Homo sapiens: one gene and its partners. The protein of the gene in region 3 interacts with the protein of the main gene of each other region in a biochemical or structural test. Each region holds a gene or a part of one and is shown on either strand. Other genes may lie near its edges.

The links.
Region 1: the proteins of PIAS1 (region 3) and SIAH1 form a complex in vitro, tested with the Homo sapiens proteins (one study listed by BioGRID).
Region 2: the proteins of PIAS1 (region 3) and SUMO1 form a complex in vitro, tested with the Homo sapiens proteins (6 studies listed by BioGRID and IntAct, with this or other methods).
Region 4: the proteins of PIAS1 (region 3) and SATB1 form a complex in vitro, tested with the Homo sapiens proteins (2 studies listed by BioGRID, with this or other methods).

What each region holds. Positions count from the first base shown.
Region 1 is NC_000016.10:48,361,394-48,368,429, reverse strand, and holds part of SIAH1 (E3 ubiquitin-protein ligase SIAH1), read left to right. Parts: intron 1-2,542; exon of another isoform or gene 2,543-2,952; coding exon of another isoform or gene 2,953-3,043; intron 3,044-5,426; exon of another isoform or gene 5,427-5,999; coding exon of another isoform or gene 6,000-6,001; coding exon 6,002-6,850; coding exon of another isoform or gene 6,851-6,953; 3' UTR 6,954-7,036. Other genes in the region: LONP2 (lon protease homolog 2, peroxisomal), read right to left, coding at 6,834-6,953. UniProt on the Homo sapiens protein: E3 ubiquitin-protein ligase that mediates ubiquitination and subsequent proteasomal degradation of target proteins.
Region 2 is NC_000002.12:202,207,597-202,214,632, reverse strand, and holds part of SUMO1 (small ubiquitin-related modifier 1 isoform a precursor), read left to right. Parts: intron 1-198; coding exon 199-276; intron 277-3,826; coding exon 3,827-3,898; intron 3,899-6,630; coding exon of another isoform or gene 6,631-6,765; intron 6,766-7,036. UniProt on the Homo sapiens protein: Ubiquitin-like protein that can be covalently attached to proteins as a monomer or a lysine-linked polymer.
Region 3 is NC_000015.10:68,190,298-68,194,366, forward strand, and holds the end of PIAS1 (E3 SUMO-protein ligase PIAS1), read left to right. Parts: 3' UTR 1-3,550; downstream 3,551-4,069. Other genes in the region: CALML4 (calmodulin-like protein 4), read right to left, coding at 3,718-3,815. UniProt on the Homo sapiens protein: Functions as an E3-type small ubiquitin-like modifier (SUMO) ligase, stabilizing the interaction between UBE2I and the substrate, and as a SUMO-tethering factor. Catalyzes sumoylation of various proteins, such as CEBPB, MRE11, MTA1, PTK2 and PML.
Region 4 is NC_000003.12:18,380,311-18,387,346, reverse strand, and holds part of SATB1 (DNA-binding protein SATB1), read left to right. Parts: intron 1-735; coding exon 736-948; intron 949-7,036. UniProt on the Homo sapiens protein: Crucial silencing factor contributing to the initiation of X inactivation mediated by Xist RNA that occurs during embryogenesis and in lymphoma.

The DNA of each region.
Region 1 (7,036 bases), on a different chromosome or scaffold from region 3:
GCCACCACGCCCAGCTGTTTTTTGTTGTTGTTGTTTTTTACTAAATTAAGAATAAACATGTTTTACTTTTTGCTCATTTTGACTGTTTTCACAGTTGTTAATCAGACTAATCTTTATAAAGCAGTTTATTGTCCCCTTTGGAGAAAATACAGCTAAAAATCACCAGTATCCTCATATAGGTAACTGATTCATTGGTCTGATGTTGTAGCCCTCTTGGTTTCTCACCCCGTCCCTCACGTCTGTGTTCTATTTGTAACTTCATTTACAATATATTATGATTTTTTTCCATATCTGACTACATTTCTCCATTTTAAACTTTTATAAGTAATTTATAAAAGGAAACAAAGATTACCACGTGGAATTGAGAATAAAAGTTTATCTTTCTACTGTTAAGTATGCTAAGGTGGTAAAGCAATGGCTGAATGCTCTGAAATTACTAAGACAACATTAAAGGCTGATTCTAAAATGTTTTTGTTTAGATTGACATCTACTTAAACTATATACCAAACTGGGCTTGGGACGTAGGCTTTAGAAAGTGTAGGTAATAGTGCATTCTTGCTAAGTTTTGGATTTTTGCCAGTTTTGGATTCTATGGGCTTGTCTTAAGGTACTTCTGTGAACTTTTCAGCTTTTTGTAAAACTAGTGTAAATATTCTACCTAGTTGAGAATTAAGGTTTATTGTGCTAAAAATTAAATGGTGGTTGATTCTTGGCAGACATGTTTGATCACCTTTGCAAGGTTAAGGCATCTTTTGGAGTGTGTTTCTTGGAATCTACAAATTCTGAGTCTGTGACTAATTGATGACTTGGCAATTAAATCAGGTCTCAGCTGAAAACTTAAATATTCTGGAATATGTACCATCCATGATACACATAAATTACCCATCTCAATCTAGACAAAAGCCAGTTGAGGCTGGAAACAGTCCAGTTTTACAGCTCAACAACTGGTGGAGCCGGGGTCTGAATCCAAGTGTAGATGACTCTAGAATGCTTCCACTTTTCTGACTTAATTAAGTAGAGGGGCCTGTCCATAGATCAGTGGTTTTCAGAGTGTGCTGTAAGGCTCTGTACAGATCTTTTGGAGTTTGGTAAACAGTGAAATATCTTTTGCTTGAGAAATAATCAGTCATCTTTTTGTTGTATACATTTTGGTTCTGTTTGGAAGAGTTTCTCTATATGAAATTTTCTTCTCTAGGGAAATTTAAGACCTGTCGAATGAAAAAATATTAGAAAATAAAAATATAGACTGGGCACAGTGGCTCAGCACTTTGGGAGGCCAAGGCAGGCTGATGGCTTTAGCCCAGGAGTTCGAGACCAGCCTGGGCAACATGGGGACTCCCTATCTTTACAAAGAAAATTAACGAGAGTGGTGGTGCCAGCCTGTGGTCTTAGCTACTGGGGAGATTGAGGTGGGAGGATTGCTCGAGCCCAGAAGACCGAGGCTGCGGTGAGTGGAGATTGTGCCACTGCACTCAGACCTGGGCAACAGAGTGAGACCCTGTCTCAAAAAAAAGGAAAAAAAGTAGTTGTGGGGCTGACTGTGTCTATTTTCAATTATATTTCTTTTCCTAATGCTGTTTTGTGTAGCCTGTATTGTAAAACGAGGTTGAGGTGATTGAACACACTTAATAGAGTGAGGAAGTGGTTAGAGTTAAAATTTCCTGCTGAAAGTGGGTAATCTGCAATTCCTTGCATTGGGTTCACTCCTCACTGCCAACTCTTGCTGCATTTTGAGGCTGCCCTAAGCATGATGTAATGACAGGTTAAACCTCTGCACGCACTAGCTGATGCAATGCAAATCTGAGGCGCAGGACTTTATTGGGGCAAGGGTAGTGCTTGTTTAAAAACAAAACAAGCTACTCTGCGTTTAATGAGGCCATTTAAGATGGCTTTCCCAGAGTGGGAAGAGAGTATAATCTCTTAGGAGGTTTAAGTAGGAGTTTAATGTGGCAGAAGTGTGCTTACTACTTTTCCTGCAAAGTCTTTTCACAGTGGGTAAGGAGAGTTTAAAATATAGTGCTGATAGGAGTAGAAATGAAGTGAGCTAGAATTGAGGAAATATGGTAGTTGATGCCCGGTAAATAGCCGTTGAATGAATTAGGGAGAATGTTTTCACTCTAAAAATTTAGAGTTCGCACGATAAACCTGGAGCGTAGCGCCAGTGTGGCCACGCATTTCCCAGATACGCTGTAGCTCTTAGATCGAAACCATAAGAAACTGCCGATATTCGACTGTTCTGACCTACCGAAAATAGCGTGGTTCCACCTAATTTTAAACTGGTGGAAATGCTGAGGAAGGTTCGATGTCGCTGGGGTGGGATGGGGTCAACGGCGGGGTGGCGGGGGCTCCCCCACGCCCCCGGCCTTTGGCTGGGGGGCGGGGCTTGCGGGCACGGCCCCACCCTTGCGCGAGCAAGACGGGCATCGCCCTGTGCGCCGCGCGCCCTGAACTGGCCCTGGCGCCCCGGGTTGGAGTAGGCGTTCCCAACGCAGGCCCAGCCCCGGCCGAGGCTCCAAATGGCTCTCCCGGCAGGCAGGCTCCTGCAGTAACTCTTGAGCTGGCTCAGGGAGCGCACTTCCTTCTCAGCCAGCGCGTCGCCCCCTGCATCCGTGGCCTCCACTGGAGCTGGGCAGGACCCTACCCAGTGAATCTGGAGAAAACAAACTTGGGAGACAGACGAAAGCTTAGGGCACATTGGAGGACAGCGCAGCTGTGGCTCCCATTTTTGGAGATGCAGTCGAATTTGAGCTCACAGGGAGGTGTGGTTGCCTCCTGGGGATGGAAAGGCTTCCTTTCTCCACCTCTGTAACTGGTGCTTCTGAGAAGTAAATGGTATTTGGATCCTGACCTCAGACGCGAATTTGGGTCTTCTGTGCTTAGGAGCAGAAAGAGCCCAGGAGGGGCCTGTTCCTTTACTTCTTGGGGGAAACGCAATGCGTGGCCTGACTTCTCATGACGGGAAAGGCTACTCCACCTTCTCTGTACTCCTGGAGGGGAGTCTTGTTCACATGTTTACCAGCGGCCAGGACAAGGAAGAGAAAAGGTATTGACATTAAGAGGATGGTTTGCTGAGGCTGTGAAACTTGAACGCTATTAGTCAGTGGAACCTGCCTGGCTTAGGGAATGGCTGCAGCAGAATCGAGACGTTTCCGAGGTTCTCAGTCATGTTTCATTTGGGCTGCTGTTCTTTTTTCTGTTTAAATCAAACTTCAGGTTACGTCATGACTTCTGCAGGGCTGTCCTTGGTTCCTACTGCAGGGCGCCTGTGTGGTTGGGATTCCTTTTCTGTTTCAAGATGGAGCTGGGTTCCACCCTTGGAGCTTTGAGAGGCTTTAGCAGTTGCTGTCCTGTAATACCTCCGTTCCCAAGAAATACCGTTCACATTTCGCTTCTTTTTCACACTTTGAATAGGAGTTAAAATGTGCTTTCTGTAGTGTTTGGAAAATGGCAAAGATATATTGTAATGTGAGCCCGAACTGTTGTTGATAAATGTATAACTATTGCTAGGTCAAGAAATTGTGAACAACAGTGTTTTGCTTGGTCCGTAGCTATATTGTGTTAAATATAAACTGAGTTTACTGCCCTTGGATGTGATTCTTTGGTTTGATTTAGTAATTTGAAAGGCATTGGTTGACTAGACTGTTTTTTGCCCAAGGAACCACTTTGTAATTGTTACGCTGCTTACTGAAGTAAACTGGACCATGCAGTAGGCATACAGCATACAGCCAGGGTGTTTTGGCAATGCTGAGCCCACTGTTTTACAAGTGACATAAAATGGATGTCATATGTACAAAGAATCTACTGAGAGGGAAACTGGATTACAGGAGAGCTCCCTTATAGTCCTTTGTCAGGGGACAGAATACCTGGGTCACACTGGGCTTCAGATTGAGAGTTGATTCATGTTCTGAGTCCATATGATGAGACACATTACGATGGAATTGTCACTTTTGTTGCCTCTGGAACTTTAAAATACCCGTTTAGTGACGTGGAATTAATCTTTATTTTTTCCGTCACCCTCAGCCCTCATTTAAGCTATCAGTTGGTAACCACTTGGGTAATCTAAACCTAAGTTGCATTTATTTGGTCACATTGGTAACCAACATTGCTTCTTAAAAGTTCCTTGCAACAGAATGACTATAATTGAGATAAAACATTAATTTTGAGGCTTTAATTTTGTAATATGGATTAGTGGCCGGGCGCAGTGGCTCATGCCTGTAATCCCAGCACTTTGGGAGGCCGAGGCGGGTGGATCACGAGGTCAGGAGTTCGAGACCAGCCATGGTGAAACCCCGTCTCTACTAAAAATACAAAAATTAGTCGGGCATGGTGGCGGGCCCCTGTAATCCCAGCTACTTGGGAGGCTGAGGCAGGAGAATTGCTTGAACCTGGGAGGCAGAGGTTGCAGTGAGCCGAGATCGCGCCATTGCACTCCAGCCTGGGCAACGAGCAAAACTCCATCTCAAAAAAAAAAAAAAAAAAAAAAAAAAAAGATTATGGCTTAGTAGAGTTACTAGGAGTGCAGTCTTAGGACATTGACTGATCTTTTTTTTCACCCCCAAGACAAATAGTGGCCTGCCATTTTCCAGCCCAGGTAGCTTCCTGGGAAAAGTTGCTTGTTTTATCTTTGACTCAGCCTGGCTAGTTACATTGTCGATTATTTCTTCCAGATGATATTTACCTGTTAAATAATGTTTATTACTCTGCTGATGAATGTTTTCAGCAACGCTGGAGAACCCTAGGCTGCAAGGGGTTCTTCACCTGTTGACTCCATCCCCCACCCCCAGTATGGCATATATCTCTGCCGTGCTATCATCTTTATTCTTTCCTTTTTCATTGTCTCTTCCTGACTGTCCTCCTTTGTTCATTATGTCTGACACATATTGTGGATTGAAAGTAGAACAGAAAGATATACTTTCTCTACCAGACTAAAAAGTTTTGAGATGGCCCTCCATTTCTCCCATGCCTCACTTCACCTTAGTTGTGTTTTTATTTATTTTTATATTTTCGCCACCTTCACTAGCGAGTACATCCCCTCACTCTTGAGGTGGGCACTGATCAGTAGGAAATAAGATTAATACCTGGCTGGTGATAATTTGGGGGGAAGACTTAATTAGATAGAGATGGATAATGGGATGGCAGCAGACCTTTCCCCTTGTGACCCTTCCCCTCATTTCCAAAATACACCTCTAGAGTAGATAATTGCTTACCATTAAGAAGAGTTAATGGAAGGTGATACTCTGATTCTTTGGCATTGGAACTACATTCAATCCGCGGTATCCTCGGATTAGTTCTAGGACCCCCTTCTCCATACCAAAACCTGAGGATGCTCAAGTCCCTGATAGAAAATGGTGTCATATTTGTATGTGCATATTCTCTTGTATAATTTAAGTGATCTCTGGATTACTTAATACAATGTAAACAATATGTAAATAGTTGTTATAGACTGTATTTTAAAAATTTTGTATTCTTTATAAATTTTTCTGAATATTTTCAATCCATGGCTGGTGAAGTCCTCGGATGCAGACCGTGTGGATACAGAGTGCCGATTTTATACAGGAGTTCACCTGTAACTCCCTGTACCTATCAACAGCTGACTCCAAATTAGAAAGAAATAGAGTAAGGGAGCCTCAGGGAGAGTCCTAGCAAAACGGATTCGATTAAACTTCAGTTCCTTGTATAGTTTCTTTAGTTGTTTATGGTCCATTTTCTATTTTAGCATTTATTATTCTATGTAGTCTATCCAAAGACGATTAAGGGAGTTCCACATGTTTTCCGGAACATTTTGAAAAGAGAGCTTATCCAGTGTACAGATCCTAATAAAGTGCACATTCAGTGTAATTTTATTTTTTTAATATCTTTTTTAATCCTATTTTTCTTCCTCTTTTGCTCAGTAAATTTTGTATGAAACTTTAAAAGGACTTATGGCATGTAAACATTATTTATAAAGTAAGTCATGGTTATAATTATTTTTCTCCTGCCTCCTTATGTATTTATTTCAGAAATGAGCCGTCAGACTGCTACAGCATTACCTACCGGTACCTCGAAGTGTCCACCATCCCAGAGGGTGCCTGCCCTGACTGGCACAACTGCATCCAACAATGACTTGGCGAGTCTTTTTGAGTGTCCAGTCTGCTTTGACTATGTGTTACCGCCCATTCTTCAATGTCAGAGTGGCCATCTTGTTTGTAGCAACTGTCGCCCAAAGCTCACATGTTGTCCAACTTGCCGGGGCCCTTTGGGATCCATTCGCAACTTGGCTATGGAGAAAGTGGCTAATTCAGTACTTTTCCCCTGTAAATATGCGTCTTCTGGATGTGAAATAACTCTGCCACACACAGAAAAAGCAGACCATGAAGAGCTCTGTGAGTTTAGGCCTTATTCCTGTCCGTGCCCTGGTGCTTCCTGTAAATGGCAAGGCTCTCTGGATGCTGTAATGCCCCATCTGATGCATCAGCATAAGTCCATTACAACCCTACAGGGAGAGGATATAGTTTTTCTTGCTACAGACATTAATCTTCCTGGTGCTGTTGACTGGGTGATGATGCAGTCCTGTTTTGGCTTTCACTTCATGTTAGTCTTAGAGAAACAGGAAAAATACGATGGTCACCAGCAGTTCTTCGCAATCGTACAGCTGATAGGAACACGCAAGCAAGCTGAAAATTTTGCTTACCGACTTGAGCTAAATGGTCATAGGCGACGATTGACTTGGGAAGCGACTCCTCGATCTATTCATGAAGGAATTGCAACAGCCATTATGAATAGCGACTGTCTAGTCTTTGACACCAGCATTGCACAGCTTTTTGCAGAAAATGGCAATTTAGGCATCAATGTAACTATTTCCATGTGTTGAAATGGCAATCAAACATTTTCTGGCCAGTGTTTAAAACTTCAGTTTCACAGAAAATAAGGCACCCATCTGTCTGCCAACCTAAAACTCTTTCGGTAGGTGGAAGCTAGACACATGAAGGTAAATAAAAAGAAAGGCTGTTAAATACAGGAAACAGTTGCATGTAGTAACACTAATATATTTAAAAAT
Region 2 (7,036 bases), on a different chromosome or scaffold from region 3:
TATACAGTAACTTTGAGGATGATTACACTGTTTTAAGAAAACCTGTTAAGAATGCTAAAAAGAATATTGTGGTGGAAAAATACAGGTTACAAGGTTTATGTTTCTATTTGCACTATATGTGTAATTAAATAGTTTGGTTCAAGTAAAGCAAATGATTTATACAAAGAGGGATAATTTTTTTCTTTTTTATCTCCTTAGGATAGCAGTGAGATTCACTTCAAAGTGAAAATGACAACACATCTCAAGAAACTCAAAGAATCATACTGTCAAAGACAGGTTCGTCCATTTTGGTATTAAGTACAATGCTTTGTCGTTAATTTTTTTTTTTTTATAGAAGATTGTCAGAAGAAAAATCCTGTTTTATTATTTTCACCATTAGCAACTCAAGGAAAACACTCTATCATTTCTTGTACCCTGCTTAACTGCTTTTTTTGTCTTGTGGCCCATTTTAAAGTTTGAATTCGTAAGATGGGAACTAGTTTGAAAAGTAACTCAGAATTGTAAAAGCGAGCTCAAATGAATGTTTCTGTCTTGATGGCTTACCAGTATATATAGCAAAAAAGGCAAGTAATTTTTTGGTGATTACTATGGATTGTTTTTGTACTTCTAATCATGAGTGTTTAGCCATATGTTAAATTTAAGTAGTAGTATTATTAGTATATTATCTCTCTTTTTTTTTTTTTTTGAGATGGAGTTTGCTCTTGCTGCCCAGGCTGGAGTGCAGTGGCACGATCTCTGCTCACTGCAACCTCCGCCTCCCAAGTTCAAGTGATTCTCCTGCCTCAGCCTCCCGAGTAGCTGGGATTACAGGCATGCACTACCACGCCCAGCTAATTTTGTATTTTTAGTAGAGATGGGGTTTCTCCATGTTGGTCAGGCTGGTCTCGAACTCCCGACCTCAGGTGATCTGCCCACCTCGGCCTCCCAAAGTGCTGGGATTACAGGCGTGAGCCACCAGGCCTGGCCTTATAAAATAGGTTTTGAAAATAAATGTAATTGGAATTAATATGAGACAACCAAGATATAGTTTAAGTGAAATTATGATTTAATAAGCAAGAAATATATGTTTAATCAGTCTTAAATTAAATTATAGGCTGGGTGCAGTGGCTCATGCCTGTAATCCCAGCACTTTGGGAGGCTGAGGCGGGCGGATCACCTGAGGGCAGGAGTTCAAGACCAGCCTGGCCAACATGGCAAAACCTTGTCTCTACTAAAAGTACAAAAATTAGCCAGGCATGGTGGCGCATGCCTGTAATTCCCAGCTAGTCGGGAGGCTGAGGCAGGAGAATCACTTGAATCTGGGAGGCAGAGGTTGCAGTGAGCTGAGATCATGCCACTGCACTTCAGCCTGGGTGACAGAGCAAGACTCCATCTCAAAAAAAAAAAAGAAAAAAGAAAAAAAAGAAAAAAAATTGAATTATATTACATAATATTAACTCAGGTATTGTAAATTTTATTTTCATTTATTTATTTATTTCTTTGAGATGGAGTCTTCACTCTGTCGCCCAGGCTGGAATGCAGTGGTGTGATCTCAGGTCACTGCAACCTGTGACTCCCTGGTTCAAGCGATTCTCCTGCCTCAGTCTCCCGAGTAGCTGGGATTACAGGCATGCACCACCACGCCCGGCTAATTTTTGTATTTTTAGTAGTGGCGGGGTTTCACTATGTTGGTCAGGCTGGTCTCGAACTCCTGACCTTGTGATCCGCCCGCCTTGGCCTCCCAAAGTGCTGGGATTACAGGCATAAGCCACCGTGCCCGGCCTGTAGATTTCATTTTTAGAAGGTTTGCTTTTAACAGTTTAAATTTGTAACTCACATTAAAAAAAACTTATTATAAGAAAGAGAAACTAGGTGTTAGGATAAGTAAAACAATAAGCATTTTTGTCTCTTCTGTTTTTGTAGATTTTAATTGTTTAACTTAATAAAATCACATTAATTGGGGTTCAACTACTTCACATTTGTAATAACTTTGGGTGTTAAAATTGAGATGAAATTCATCAGGGGAAAGAAACATTTATTGAAATCTCAATTATGTGTACTGTGCCATAGGTATTTAAGATACATTATTGGCCAGGCACAGTGGCTCACGCCTCTAATCCCAGCACTTTGGGAGGCTGAGGCAGGCGGATCATGAGGTCAGGAGTTCGAGACCAGCCTGACCAACATGGTGAAACCCCTGTCTCTACTAAAAATACAAAAATTAGCTAGGCATGGTGGTGCACGCCTGTAATCCCAGCTACTCGGGAGGCAGAGGCAGAAGAATCGTTTGAACCCAGGAGGCGGAGGTTGCAATGAGCCGAGATCACGCCATTGCACTCCAGCCTGGGTGGCAGAGTGGGACACTGTCTCAAAAAAAAAAAAAAAAAAAGATTCATCGTCATTTAATTTTCATAACTCTGAAGAAAATTCATATAGTCTCTACGCCCCCCATCTGTAGGCCAGGGAATTGATTTTTTTTTTTTTTTTTTTTTTGAGACAGAGTCTCACTCTGTCGCCTAGGCTGGAGTGCAGTGGTGCCGTCTTAGCTCACTGCAACCTCCACCTCCTGGACTCAAGTGATTCCCAATGCCTCAGTCTCCCGAGTAGCTGGGATTACAGGCACCTGCCACCAGGCCTGGCTAATTTTTGTATTTTTTTTTGTATTTGTATTTGTATTTTTTTTTTTAGACAGGGTGTTCCTCTGTTGCCCAGGTTGGAGTGCAGTGACACGACCTTGGCTCACTGCAACCTCCACCTCCCGGGTTCAAGTGATTCTCCTGTCTCAGCCTCCCGAGTAGCTGGGATTACAGGCGCGTGCCACCTCGCCAGGCTAATTTTTGTATTTTTGGTAGAGATGGGGTTTCACCATGTTGGCCAGGCTGGTCTTGAACTCCTGACCTCTAGTGACCCACCCGCCTCGGCCTCCCAAAGTGCTGGGGTTACAGGCTGAATCACTGCGCCTGCCCCGTAATTTTTGTATTTTTAGTAGAGATGGAGTTTCATTATGTTGGCCAGGCTGGTCTCAAACTCCTGACCTCAAGTGAGCCGTCTCTCCCCTTTCAGCTGTTTTTGTTGAAGAGTGATTAGAAAAATGTATACTAATATATTTTGTAATATTTATGGTGCTATCTGTGCCATCCAGGTTTATGGTAGATGAGCTAGCTAGCCATTTGCGCTTTACCAGATTTTATGATAATGTTGGCCAGGCTGGTCTCAAACTCCTGACCTCAAGTGAGCCGTCTCCCCTTTCAGCTATTTTTGTTGAAGAGTGATTAGAAAAATGTATACTAATATATTTTGTAATATTGCGCTATCTATGCCATCCAGGTTTATGGTAGATTAGCTAGCTAGCCATTTGTGCTTTACCAAATTTTATGATGTAATCTGTTTAAAACCAATTTCGCCAGTATAGTTGGAAGCTAGTGAGGGTGCACGTCCAGTTTCTGATCTGATCTTTTATTCTAGCTTACAGATTTAGGGCAAAGTGAATCGAGTAGTGGTCAAGAGCATAGGCTTAGAAACAGGTTTGGGCTTAAATTCTTGGCTAGCTCCAAGCCTTAGGTTCCCTAGCTGTAACATGAAGATAAGGTGGTAATACCTACCTTCCAGGGTTGTTGTGTTTAACACTTATGATTATGTATGTAAAGAATTGGTACAGGGAGGGCCTTGCAAATAGTTGCTACTCAGTACAGTATATAGTATTTATGATTGAATTAGCTTGTCTAATTTTATTTTCTATGTAGTGTTCTAAGGCTTTCATGCTTGCTTTTTGTGCATCAAAGTTACCATTATGTTTTCTAATATTTGTGTGTGTATGTATGCATTATTATTATCTTTACCTTTTTAGGGTGTTCCAATGAATTCACTCAGGTTTCTCTTTGAGGGTCAGAGAATTGCTGATAATCATACTCCAAAAGAAGTGAGTATACTTTTCTCCTGAGTCAAGAAAAAATTTAAATTCTCCTTTGAGCAGTTTGGTTCACTGGTGTTAAAACTGCCCTTTTCTTGAATATTCTCTGATTTAAATGGCATATCATTTGTTGGAGAGAAGAAATAATGTTTTGGGTTGAACTTCCCCTATAGTGCCTTTAAAAGTGCCAATAAAAAGGGTGGTAGAAACAAAATGAGTACTGAAATTGTCATAGGTCACATGCTACATCCTTTTTGAAGATAGACAAATGTTCCTCAAATTTGGTAAATTTCTGGTATACTTTCATGGTGATGGTAACATTAATGGCTGGATTTTCATTTTTGACCTATTTTGAGAATGTTAATACAGAAGCATAGTGTATATTAATATATTTGGCTCTGTCATCTTGTTTTACCCTATTTTTTTATGCTTCTCTGTCTTCATTTGATTTTTTTATTCTATGAGCAGTTTGCTTTGCTTTTATATTCCACCCATCTTCCCTCTATAGAGATATCTCAAAGTAGTGTGTGTGTGTGTGTATGTGTGTGTGTATCTATATACATAGATTCCCTTCATACACAGAGTAACATTACTGATATTTCTGATAGTGGGAACAATATAGGGTTATTAACTTTTTATTTTGAAAATATTTCAAACTTACTGAATTGTGAGAATAGTGTAATACTCTCCTGTATAACTATTCCTTAGATTCACCAATTAAAATTGCACAGCATGTGGGCCAGGCACGGTGGCTCATACTTGTAATCCTAGCACTTTGGGAGGCCAAAGTGGGTGGATTGCTTGAGTCCTGGAGTTCAAGACCAGCCTGGGCAACATGACGAAAACCCGTCTCTACTAAAAATAAAAAAATTTGGCCAGGTGCAGTGGCTTATGCCTGTAATCCCAGCACTTTGGGAGGCCGAGGTGGGCGGATCACGAGGTCAGGAGTTCGAGACCAGCCTGGCCAGTATGGTGAAACCCCGTCTCTACTAAAAATACAAAAATTAGCCGGGCGTGGTGGCATGTGCCTGTAGTCCCAGCTACTCGGGAGTCTGAGGCAGAAGAATCGCTTGAACCCGGGAGGCAGAGGTTGCAGTGAGCCGAGATTACGCCACTGCACTCCAGCCTGGGCAACAGAGCGAGACTCTGTCTCAAAAAAAAAGAAAAAAAGAATTAACTAGGCTTAGTGGTGCATGTTTGTAGTCCCAGCTACTTGGGGGGCTGAGGTGGAAGGATCACTTGAGCCCAGGAGGTCGAGGCTGCAGTGAGCCCTGGTCATGTCACTGTGCTCCAGCCTAGGTGACAGAGTGAGAACCTGTCTCAAAAATAAAGTAAATAAAATAAAATAACATTGTGCAGCATTTGATAGCTGGGATTGGTGGTGCACGCCTATAGTCCTAGCTGCTTGGGAGGCTGAAGCGGGAGGATCACTTGAGTGAGCCCAAAAGTTCGAGACGAGCCTGGATAACAGAGCGAGGAGTCCCCTGTCTCAAAAAAAAAAAAATATTATGTTTTTCTAGTATGACTACTAGAATGCAGTCATAGCTCACTGCAGCCACAAATGCCTGGGCTCTAGCAATCCTATCACTATCAGCCTCCTGAATAGCTGGGATTACAGGCATGTGCCACCATGCTCTGCTTTTAAATTTTTTGTAGAGATGGAGTCTCCCTATGTGCCCAGGCTTTGATCACTTAGTTTAAGTGTTGTCTCTTTTTTTTTTTTTTTTTTTTTACTTTGTAGTTAACTGTTTTTCCTGTTACAATTAAGTAATTTGAGGGGACACACTTTGAAACTATGCGAATATCCCCTTTCTCATCAAATATTCCCCTTAGGTTTAGTGTCCACCACCTTCTTGAACACTTCCTTACTTTCTGGCACAGTAAGAAGTTCCAAACTCATCTTTTACTTTCCTTTAACTTGGCATAATCTCTGGGACCATACAGTAGATATCTAATACATTTTACTGACACATGCCTTACACATTCCTTGTAATTAAGAGATTATTTTTTCAGAGGAATGTTGGTGCAGTGGGAGACAGTAGGTCTTTAGGGAGTGACCCTCCTGTGCTGTTGTTCACTTGTCTCTGTTAATGTACTTCTTGAAGTTTGTAGCTTTATATTCTTTATAGCTCAAGGACTCATGCTGTCTTCCTGTTTTGAAGGTTTCTAATAACACTTGGAATTTTATTCCTTGCAGTATTTACCATGCTATATGGGCAATTAAAATTGTTTTAAAAGCATCTTTTTTTTTTTTTTTTTGAGATGGAGTTTTGCTCTTGTTGCCCAGGCTGGAGTGCAATGGCACAATCTTGGCTCACCGCAACCTCTGCCTCCCGGGTTCAAGCGATTCTCCTGCCTCAGCCTCCTGAGTAGCTGGGATTACAGGCATGCACCACCACGCCTGGCTAATTTTGTATTTTTAGTAGAGACGGGGTTTCACCATGTTGGTCAGGCTGGTCTCGAACTCCCGACCTCAGGTGATCTGCCGCCCCCCCAGCCTCCTAAAGTGCTGAGATTACAGGTGTGACCCACTGCACCTGGCCTAAAAGCATGTTTAATAATTATTTAAATATTCAAATATGTTCCACAACCAAGATAGCTTAACACTACTAGAGCCATTCTGATCACTTTAAAATCCTAAATTCACATGTGTTATGTTTAGATTTCTTAACATACTTTATTTTCATATTTAAAATTCTGCACAAAAATGTTACCTATAAAATTTAAAACTTTTTGGTCAGGCACAGTGGCCCACGCCTGCAATCCTAGCACTTTGGGAGGCTGAGGCGGGCTGGATCACTGCAGGTCAGGAGTTGAGACCAGCCTGGGCAACATGGCGAAACCTCATCTCTACTAAAAATAGAAAAAGTAGCCAGGTATGGTAGCGCACGCTTGTAGTGCTAGCTACTTGGGAGGCTGAGCTGGGAGGATTGGTTGAGCCCAGGATGCTGAGGTTGCAGTGAGCTGAGGTTGAGCCCAGGAGGCTGAGGTTGCAGTGAGCTGAGATTGTGCCACTGTACTCCAGCCTGGGCAATATAATGAGACCCTGTCTCAAAAAACAAAAACAAACAAACACCAAATTAGATATATCCTATTAAACTATCACTTAAACTATTAAATACATGTTTCATTAGATTTAAAAGTTCT
Region 3 (4,069 bases):
TGAGGAGTTTGTTTCCATCAGTTGTTGACTTTCCAAAATGTTGCATTAAGTAATAGTTGTCACTCTGTTGGTCTCATGGTCAATATCAATCAGACTTTCATGATCTCTACTAATTATTAGTAGAGTCCTGTACTATGTCTGTAACTACTAAGTTTAAAGAAAAGCACATAGTCACTTCATCTCTTTTTTTCTTAGCCTACGCTCACTCCCCAACCCATCCCAACATTGACATGCTATCTGTGGACAAATAGCAGTTCTCAGAATCTAGTCAAGTTGCCATCATCCCCCTTGCCTTGGCCGTTCATAGTAGGTATGCATATGTTTGTTTCTGTACAGTACTGTGTGTGTGTGTGTGTATATATATATACATCTGTATGCACACATCTTTGATAAAATAGCTATTTGACTAGCAGGGTTAAAGTGGCTTTTAATTACTTCGTGAGTGTTATTGGATACATCTTAAAAAAAAAAAATCTGAACCAGAACCATGCCATACTTGGTTGACTATTTTGAGCATTAAAATTGCTTTACTAATTATTTAGACATGATCACAATTCTGTATCTTTACTGAGGAAAGATTCACGTAAGCTCTGAAAAATCGGATTCTTTGGCAGATTTTCCTTTGAGTCAAGTGTCTGAAATGGAGTGAAAATATATCCTAACTAAATTAATGTGGAAAGAGCATTTTTTTAGACAATTTCAATTTTAAACACATAAAACTTTCAAGATCTTCAGGACTTTTTAAAGCACATTTGAAATTATTTTAGTAAGAATTTTGTTTTATCAATAGATGTTGAATTCTGTTTTTTAATTAAATACAAAGCTTAGATTTCAGAAAGAGAGGGAAAATAGCTGGTGGTCCCAGAGTGTGCTGCTGTTAATTGTTTAACAAAGGGGAAAATGTACATAAACAGATAAAGTTACCATAAATTCCATGAACTTAAATCTGTGATTCATTGCCTTAAAACTTTCTCTCTTAGAATTTCCATACCGCATGCCAAACCAGTAAAATGGCTTTTAAAAATGTATAGTAGACAATGTCAGTTTGTATAAAAGTACCAAGTGAAAATATTTATTACATGCATTGGAAAAAAATTGTTTACCTATTGAATGTTACCTGTTTATGTAGAGCTCTTTAGATGTAATAAAAGAAAAGCCTTCAGTTAATTTGTCTTCTGTAAAATAACACTGCTGGATGTTCAAGGGGACAATCCCTATGAGACAAGTGATAATGGTTTGTGCTTCCAAAGCACCTTTCATCCAGAGATTTCAAAGCATGACAAGTAACTAACTAATTTTCTTGCAGCATGCTTTGAGGTAAGTAATGAATATAGCCATCATTTCCCTTTCTTGTTGAAATATGGCTAACTCTTTAATAAATCACAGCATCTGTTTAGTATCTGCAGTTTGAATGCTAAGAGCACCGTGGCCTTCTTGTAAACAACACTAGGTGCTAGAGAAACCAGCTGGAATTTCAGGAATGAGCTTGAAACCAGGACCAGGAGTAAGGTAACAGCCCTTCCTCGGGTAGAGGTTTGAATCAAACACTTAATAGGATCTTAGACTCTGGACCACTGAATCCCTTAATGAGCAGGGAGTCCGTGAAGAGGAGCCCCAGGTTCTAATGACCATTCCACACCAACTGTGTGTTTTTGGCAAGTTATATTTCAGATTCCTGTTAGGCAAATGAGATTCATAAAACTTGCTTTAAAACCATACTGGGACTATTCAGTGATAAATATAGACATAGAAAAGCTTTGACGGAAAGTACCCTCATTTATTATATCCAGAACTTGCTCTTCCTGTGCCATCTAAATCATTGGTATCTATCTCCCATCTAATCTTTGGTATTCCAGGTTGGCTGTGCAGGATTTACTTCCTAATGTCCATGACTGGAGCTCAAAAGAACTGTGGGCCTAGGACCTTTGAGCTTTGCCTGAAAGTGACAGCAGTTCTCTCGGCGGGGCCAGCATCTAACCGGCCCTCTGGTGGATTTACCATGAAGGTAATGAAGTTTAAGCACCAGGACCCTTCACTTGTTCTGGTCCTAGGAGCAGCCCCAGAAATTCTGCATTTCTGTTTTTGTATTCTTAAGGCAGCCAAATCTCGTAAACCTCAGACCCCACAAAACATCTGCTCCTACACTGTGTGGACCTGGGCTTCCCAGCCAGATGGTCACAACTTCACCTAGTTGGCATTTGGGCCATTTATTTACCCTCACCCCACAAAACTCTTTGGCTCCTAGGAATTCCTCCTCTCCTTGCAGTTATGCTTGGGGAAATGAGAGTCTCCTTCCTCAGGGCCTTGTTTGGGTCTGAAGCCACACAGCATCGTTGAGACAGTTGCACTAACACTACAACTCTTGTTCCCTGCAGTTTTCCCTGTGCCCGGTGCCTAGTGAAAGATTTGTGTCTTGTACATCCTCCCAAAAGACACATCCCATTTGATTTGGTTTTCTTCTACTTTAGCCACTGTGGTACTACTAGACAAAGCCACAGCCCAGAGAACCCACTTTTGATACATACATGGATGCAAATCTTTGTACTTGAAGCCCTGCACCCCTACCTGTGTTGGTGTGGTACTCCAGCCCTTTTAGGACTGTGCTGGCACTACGAATGATCCAGATTTGACAAGTGTATGGCACCTCTGAATCTCTGGCAGCACCAACCTGGCACCTTCTAGCTGTGTAACTCACTCAAAGCCACTCCAGCTGGATGGACTCCCAGAAAGCCTAGTGCTCCTACTACTGTTTTCCAGGGCTGTTGTACCCTGGCCATTGCTGGTTACATCCCCTTATTTCTCTCCGTAAGTCCTGGGGAGGTGGCTTAAGGCAATGACCAGTGTGGGCCACTTGAGCAGACCATCCCGGAACCTCTCTGCCTGTTAACAGAGCCCAGGGAACAGCTCGGAATTCTCACAGCATTGGAAGCCCCCTTCTTGAGCTCTGCAAGGCCAGTCAATTTAGCAGCTCACATCTGGTTTCCTTTGGTGTGGGGTGTAAAGTAGATCGCTCTTCCTGCTCTCAGCTGATGCTGCCTCATTGTAGCATGTGTTTTCACTCTAGTGTTTTCACTCTACACTCTGTGTTTATGAATGAATAGCCTGAGCTATGTCACTATATCTGTTGAGATGGAAATGAGAATTTGTAAATGGGCCTCTGGCACTGCAAGAATTGTTGTCATAAGTGTTACAGCTTTCTGTTCATTGCTGCTTCTCAGCTAGCACTGGCTTCATCTTGGAAAATCTTGGAAATATGGAAGATGGTTCTAGCCCCCAAATACAGAATAAGTCTCTTGGTAGATTGCCCTTAAGTCATCAGCTCAATCCTTCCTCAACAGGCTCCATGAGGTAAGAAGTGGGAATCCAGCTTGTGTGGGGGGGCTTTGAGGAGTGAAATGATTTGCCCAAAGTCACAGTGGGAAGCAGCAGAGCCAGGACTGGAACCCAGGCCAGACTCCAAACCGCAGGCTCCTTCCATGCTTGAAAGGGCCGGACTCACGGTAGTTAATAAAATCAATACAAATCTTTTATTAAAGATCTACTCATACCATGGCTGAAATCATCTATTATTGTTGCTAGTTAGCCTCTCTTCTATAGTTGGGTAATGTTGTCTTGCCACTGTGTTTGCCATCTCTCCCAAGTGAAAAGAACACTTTTTAAAAAAAATTAATTGCTCCAAGTTTTCAGGCCCAGGGGAGGCTCTCCCATTCTCCTCCTTCAATAGTCCCGTCCAGGAAGGGTGATCTTGTGGATAAATTCATCATACTTCACTTTGCCATTGGGTTCGATATCTGCTTCCCTGAAGAGATCATCCACTGCAATAAATCACATTTAATTTTTCAGTTTGGCTTTAGTGTTCCATTATAAAACAGTGAGTTTTTTGGGGACTGGAGCTCCCCTAAGGTCTTCCCTGAGCGTGCAGTTGACTATTCCTGTAGACCAGGAAGTAAACCAGTGAACAGAAAGGGACAACCCATCCCTGCACTCCTGAGACCCTTATTCCATTTTGAGCTAATCGGGCTTTCTGCAGGGGCAGGGAGTAGGGAGGTGTACTGGTAAGGATTCGGTC
Region 4 (7,036 bases), on a different chromosome or scaffold from region 3:
TCGCAATGTTGAAAATTAGTTAATATATTTCAAATCTTGTCTATGGTTTTTAAAGTTCAAAATTTAAACCTGTTACCCAGTGGTATAATACAGCAAGATAGTATTTAGAATCATTTGTGATAATCAGTGAGGTTCTCTGAAAATGGTAAATTGAAAGGGTCACGTAGTGTCATGTACTTTGATAAGTCAGAGTTTAAGGAATAATTTTAAACATTGCCTGTGAAAATACAGCATAAACCTTAGGTGATGCTTTAGTAATAACCTTTGTTCTAATATGTTAAAATTCATTTTCTGGTATTTTCTTTGAAAGTTCTACTTCTCTAGAAATGGCTTTGTATCTTTACATATTGGGCTGTAGGCATTACACTGCCTTTGTCTAGGCAGCTTGGGAACTATACAGTTCAGTGCTGTTGCATTATAAGGATTTCGTTTATTCTTAACTTCCCTGGATCGTCTCTCTGTGAAAGATTTCATGGCAAGTTAAGCTACTCAAAGGAAGGAGACCAATTAGGCAGTTTCAGTTTATGTTATATGTAAAGCAGATGCTTAATAAAATTAAGAATACAATTGAGGCTCTCTTCTCTACCACTTCAGTTGTAACTAATATATTCCTATGCAGAATTAATGCCTCTGACTGTTCATTTTCTAAACAGAGTGGAGAAGAAAAGGGAAGGATCACTGCTGGCCAGGCAAAGCAAGGCAGCAGGCTCACCCTGTGCCTTTCATTTCTTGCAGGGCTTGCTTTCAGAAATCCTCCGAAAGGAAGAGGACCCCAAGACTGCATCCCAGTCTTTGCTGGTAAACCTTCGGGCTATGCAGAATTTCTTGCAGTTACCGGAAGCTGAAAGAGACCGAATATACCAGGACGAAAGGGAAAGGAGCTTGAATGCTGCCTCGGCCATGGGTCCTGCCCCCCTCATCAGCACACCACCCAGCCGTCCTCCCCAGGTGCGGTCTCCTTTTCCTCCTTGCCCTTCTTTGTTTAGCTTTTTTTTAATGCTTGAGGAAGAATCTCAATAAGAAATTAGATAGATAGATACATAGATTTATATGTTTTTAAATTCGTATAGTTGCTTGAGGAGAATTTGGTCCCAAATCATTAATTCTGATATAAAAACAATAAGCTCCTAATTAGATAGAGGGAAGAAAATTGCTTTGTGTTCCTTCATTCTTTGGGTTATTTGGGGGTGAAAGTAGTCTTTAAATGGGATATTTGTCTCTACTGTTGTTATTAAGTAAAGTATTTTAAACTCAATAGAAAAAGAATAAAGTCAGTTTTTTCCCAACTGGTTTCAGAATCGCCATTTGAATAGTAAATAAATAAAAATAAATAATTTCATTTGTATTTATACTTTCCAGTACGAACTGCAGCTGGTACCAATTACACACCATCTCATTTGTAATCTTTCATAATTAAGTTTAATAAAATCCTTGAAGGCAGCTTTAAATGGGGCTGATAAGGAATTCTATCCATACTCCAAGATACGGGCATGTTTTCTCTTTCTTAAAATTTTTGGACTTTTTAGGAAAGAAAGTTGCCTTCCGGGTAACTTTGGGTATGTGAATCTGTATTGTTTTTTAAACTAAGTTTTAAAAGTAACCTCATAACTGTTATAATTCAGTAAATCAATTTGCATTACAAACCCTTAGATAAAAGTTTGCTAGTTAGTGTATTAGACTCAAAAACCACAAGCAAATATATTATCTTTTTTTTTTTTTCTTTTGAGATGGAGTGCCGCTCTGTCACCCAGGCTGGAGTGCAGTGGCACGATCTTCACTCACTGCAAGCTCTGCCTCCCGGGTTCACGCCATTCTCCTGCCTCAGCCTCCCAAGTAGCTGAGACTACAGGCATCTGCCACCACGCCCAGCTAATTTTTTTGTGTTTTTAGTAGAGACGGGGTTTCACCGTGTTAGTCAGGATGGTCTCCATCTCCTGACCTCATGATCCTCCCACCTCGGCCTCCCAAAGTGCTGGGATTACAGGCCTGAGCCACCGCGCCCGGCTGCAAATGTGTTTTCTTACATGTTTAACTTGTGACATTTACAGCTCTTAAAAATAAGGTCAGTTAAAATTGGATAAAAATTGAACATGGAAGAAAAAGTCGAAATATTCATATGACAATCTCATAGTGAAATTGTATCTCGATTTTACTTCATTCTCATCAATGGTAGAAAGTGGTTATACATTTTCATGTATAGAAATCTAGAAAAAACTCATTCAACACTAAAGAGTGAAAGTACTACGGATACTGCATAAATAAGAAATATTTAGCCACTTGTTGAGTAGCTAAATAAACTGCTTATCATAAGGTTCTGAAACTATTACTTTTTAGAAATGTCACAAAATCCATTTTCACTAGTTTATTTAATGAAAATCAATCTGGTCTTGATGTCTATAGGAACAGACTATAAGGAAATCATTGCTATAATTGTGAATAAAAAAGTCATGCTTCTTTAGGAGAAAAGCATGGCATCTATATACGTATGTACACACCCACCTGCCCACGCACACAAAGTTATTGAATTTGATCTCTAAATGCTTCTATAAAATATTTCCTAAGATAAAGAATGAGGAACTCTTTATGTATAAAAAATATGACTTCTAAGTATGGTTAAAGAGAAAAGATAAACTATGACTTCTAGGAATGATAAAAAAGAAAAAATATACGAAATGAAATAAAATAATTTGGTTTGGTACTTTTTCTGTAGTGTTTAGTGTTAATACACACACTTTTATTAGTTAACTTTGCTCCTGAAGTCACCACTGACAGGGCTCTGAGCAGAGAATTACTTTACTTATCACTTAATCTGCAATACTAATAAAAGAATGGCTTACTTAAGACCAATATGAACTTCAACATTGAACTGCTTTAAAAAAAAAAAAAAACATCTAGCCAGATATTTGACTTTGTGGTTCCTTAATACAGCTTTTGTTTTCTAATTTTTCTAGGACTCTGGTTTTATTTATTTTCCAAATGTGATTTGGGTGTCCTTACTCATCAAGCTTTTTCTTGAGCTAAAGTTATACCAATTCTTATTAAGTGATATTTCTTTTCATATGCTGTTAAGATACTATAGGATAACTTTCCTGTATGTATGCTTAAAGGCTTTATCTGCTGATAAGTTGGGATAGAATATATGTTTAATTTATTTTTGCCTGAATTATTGGTTAACTGGTTGTGCCACCCTTAGCTGTATTTGTTTGTTCTGAAGAGGAGCTGAGACCAAGCCCATAGCTAGGGTATTCAGCCAATGATGAAAATATACAGTATATACATACTGTAGATTCTTAGTGAAACTCTTTCAAATAAAACATTTCTATTACTGCAGTATTACTGGCCATCTAACCAAACTCCAAAATGACTAACTGATATGTGTATGTGTGTGTAATTTTATTTTGCTGCTGCAATATAAATCTTTAAATTATTAATATTATTATAATGGAGATCACTACCAGTTTGTTCACATTCTTCCCTTTAACCATGATTAAATGAATTAAATTTTAAGAAATCTTAAGGTATTAAAGGTATTATCAATGCAAAATTAGTACTTTAGATTTGGAAAAACACGTTATAGAGCACTTGAATTAGTGCTGTCTTGTAGCAGTTGAAATAATGAAATGATGCTTAAACTGGAACCAGTATGCATATTAAAAATGAGTTAAAATAAAGGATAAAATGGAGAAAACCACAGATAACACAGACTGCAAAATTTTGTCTTTTTAAATTTTACATTTTGCCAAAGAGGAGTCCATGTGAAATCAGTATACATTTCATTTCCCCCAAAATGAGGAGATTTGAAACATATTTTGAGACAAATCTTGGGTTTGGGTTGCACCTGAAACCTGATTTCTTTCTAAAGAACCACATGTTAAAAGCAGAGGCCCTCAGTGGTTCACAGAAAACCCAGCCCCCATTAAGGCCTGGGAAACTGGATTCTCTTCCACCTCTTTATAGAGTGTAAAACATGCAGAAGATGATTTTGGAGTGCCCTTGGGACATACCATAACAAGGACCTAAACTATTGAAGGACTTGAATTCTAAGTCATCTTCAAGAAAGGACTTCCTGGCTAGTCAGACCCCACCTGGGGACACCTAGCCTCAGGAAACACCAGAGCTCCTTGGTGGCCCAGTCCAGGTGAGATGCCTCCCTGCAGAGGTATCCCATGTGCTCCAGTAGGGACAGTTATGCCCTGTGCTTCATCCTCTGCCTGGGCTATAGGCTCTGGGCCAGACCTGGTTGCTGCAAACATTTTCACAACTTACATGCTCTAATTCAACAAATAAGAATATCTTGCACCTGATAATGATTCACACCCTAACTTGATAAAAGCTATTCTGAAAGCAGCTGAATACATTAATTCATTGAATCCTCATACCAACCTTTCCCTAGAAGAAAAATGAGAAAACCAAGTTTAAGGTTGAGTCAGAGTTTTCAAATCCTCTGCTAAGTCTCTTGCTCCTTCCTCTACTTCAAGCCACCTCCTCAGAATAAAAGCAAACTTATTTTAGAAAGGGAAAAGTGAAACTTGGAGATCTTTTTGTTTGTCATAGAGGATGGGAGGTTTTCTTGTTAGAATGGGAAGAGGAGCATGTGCTAAAGCATTGTCCTAATGAAATAACTTGTTTGACAAATTATCCAGTTGGGAAAACTAGACAATGGCATTTCTGGGATTGTGGGGAGAACAGCCCCTTTTAAACTTTGGTCTCATGAAAATATCTGGGAGAACCCAGTCCTCCCAGCTTCCTTGGTCTTAAGGTTTCTTTTCACTATAAGCTTTGCAGATTTTCCTGATGAGTTTATTAGAGGAATTTTTATGAACAATAATAATTCATGATTATTATCTGAGAATTGTATATTTTACAGAATTTTAAGTGATGATTTCTACCGTAAGGGTATACTTTTTAAAATTTGATTTGTGCATTTTATGGTGTGTGACTTTTGGAGTTAAATTAATTTAGCAGTTTGTTTCCATGAAGACTGTTTGAAAGCATATAATTACTGAGTTACAGCTTTTACATGAATTACACAAAAGTCTTTTTTTCTTCATTTTTTACATCTCTTTATGTAATTCTTCATTTTTTACATCTCTTTATGTAATTACCTAAAGAATTACTAAAGGTATGCTATTTCATAACAATGCTTTAGAAAATTTATGAAGTTAATATAAACAGTATATGATTAATCTGGTAGTTGCACTATTTTGTCTCTTTACAAGAAATCCCTCTACGATATAATGAAACATAGGTTCATCTTGATTTCAGGTTCAGTTACAGGCAGGAACTTAACACTTGGTAAAAGTTTTATTTCTTATGAATCCCTTGAAGATCATTTTAAGATGTTGCTTATGTGGTTATAAAATGCATCCCATTAATTGTCGTCTTTTAAAAGCTGGAAGACTTTTAAAGGCTAGATTTGGAAAATAATACTGTTCCTGGAAGGAAAGAAATATCTAAAAATATGAAACCATGGTGCTAAAGACAGTGTTAATATATTAAAATTTGAGAGTGGGAAATATTTTCCATCACTAATAAGCATCCATAAAAGAGGACATTTCTTATTTTCATTAATAAGAAAATATAATTTTTATACCCTGAAAAATAAATTTAGATTGGATTTTAATCAAAAATCAATAGCTATTAAAAAATTAGACATTAATGAGCTAGATTTATCAAAGGGCCACCAAAAAACAAGTCCAGCCTGCTCTAAAAATTAAGAATTTTTTCAAGTAAAGAAGGTGCAGGTAATGTCATGAACTCTAAATAACTTTGGGTTTCTAGTTAAGTTTAGATCTCAGCATTGCTCCACCAACAAATTGTTTAACCTGTTTGTTTTAACGGAGTTTTCTCAATTTTAAAATGGGACAATCATAATACCTCCTCCGGGCTGTTAGGCAAGTTAAGAAGTTAATATACATTAATACAATGTCCAGCACATAATAAACAACTAATAAATGTCAGTGTTTATTATCACAATTATTAAAACTACATATAACTTTAATTTTGCTTGTGTAAAAGCAGTGTGCTTGCAGGCAATTCTTCATGCATCAGAGTAGGATGTTCACCAATCAAGGCTGAAATAGAGTTCATTTCGTGTAAAATCTAAAAGCATGATTCAATGCATACAGCAATCCATGAAGAAGCAAAATAGAGTTTTTATGGAAAATGTGTGTCCTGCGGCACAATTTTAGTGAAATAAAAAGCAGACTCTAGTGCTGCACCCTATCCCCACATGGGAGGGTAAGTAGTAGAAGCTCCAATTCTTAACTACTTCCCCGGCGCCGCCTTAATAATGGAGTAGTACACCCTACCTTGATAAAAGCTATTCTGAAAGCAACTGCATTTATTTTACCTCCTGTGCTATTTGCGGAGAAGAGCTGAACAGTAGTTTGTTTTGCCTGGAATGAACTACTTTATGAATTTTAATGTGTGATATAATATTAAAAGCTAAACCAGGATTAAAGAAGATTTTTTTGTACTAAGCTAAAATAGTACTTAGTAGAGTGAGGTATAAAAGATTTTTGTTTCCATTTTTACCTGGGGAAAAATTCAGCTTTCATATTTTTGAAAAGCTGTCCAAGTCAGTTTCCCTTAAGCAATAGCTTGTGTTTAGGAAAAAAAAAAATGTGATTCTAGAATTCTAATAGCTTATCTATGATAAGATGTGTATCTGGGCCAACAAAATGGTAAAGAAGAGCTTTCCTAAATATTTTTTAAATGAGTAGTACAGAGATACTTTCTAACTTTGTAATTGTTAAAGTTTCACCCTCACATTCTTTTTTTAAAAAAAAATATTTCTTGTATACTTTTTTCACTTTTGTTTTGATTGTGTTGGCTACTAGGAAATGATTTTTTAAAATAATTTAGAATTTGTGCTTGATTATAATTGCTTTAAAATAAAAAAAAAAATTAACCAAAGAAGTTTTTAGAAACAAAGTCACAGGGTTGAAACAAATGATTATAGCGCACCTCAAAGATAAATTCTTAAACATCATTTTTACAAAATAATGAAAATTACTTTAAAAACAGATCGAAA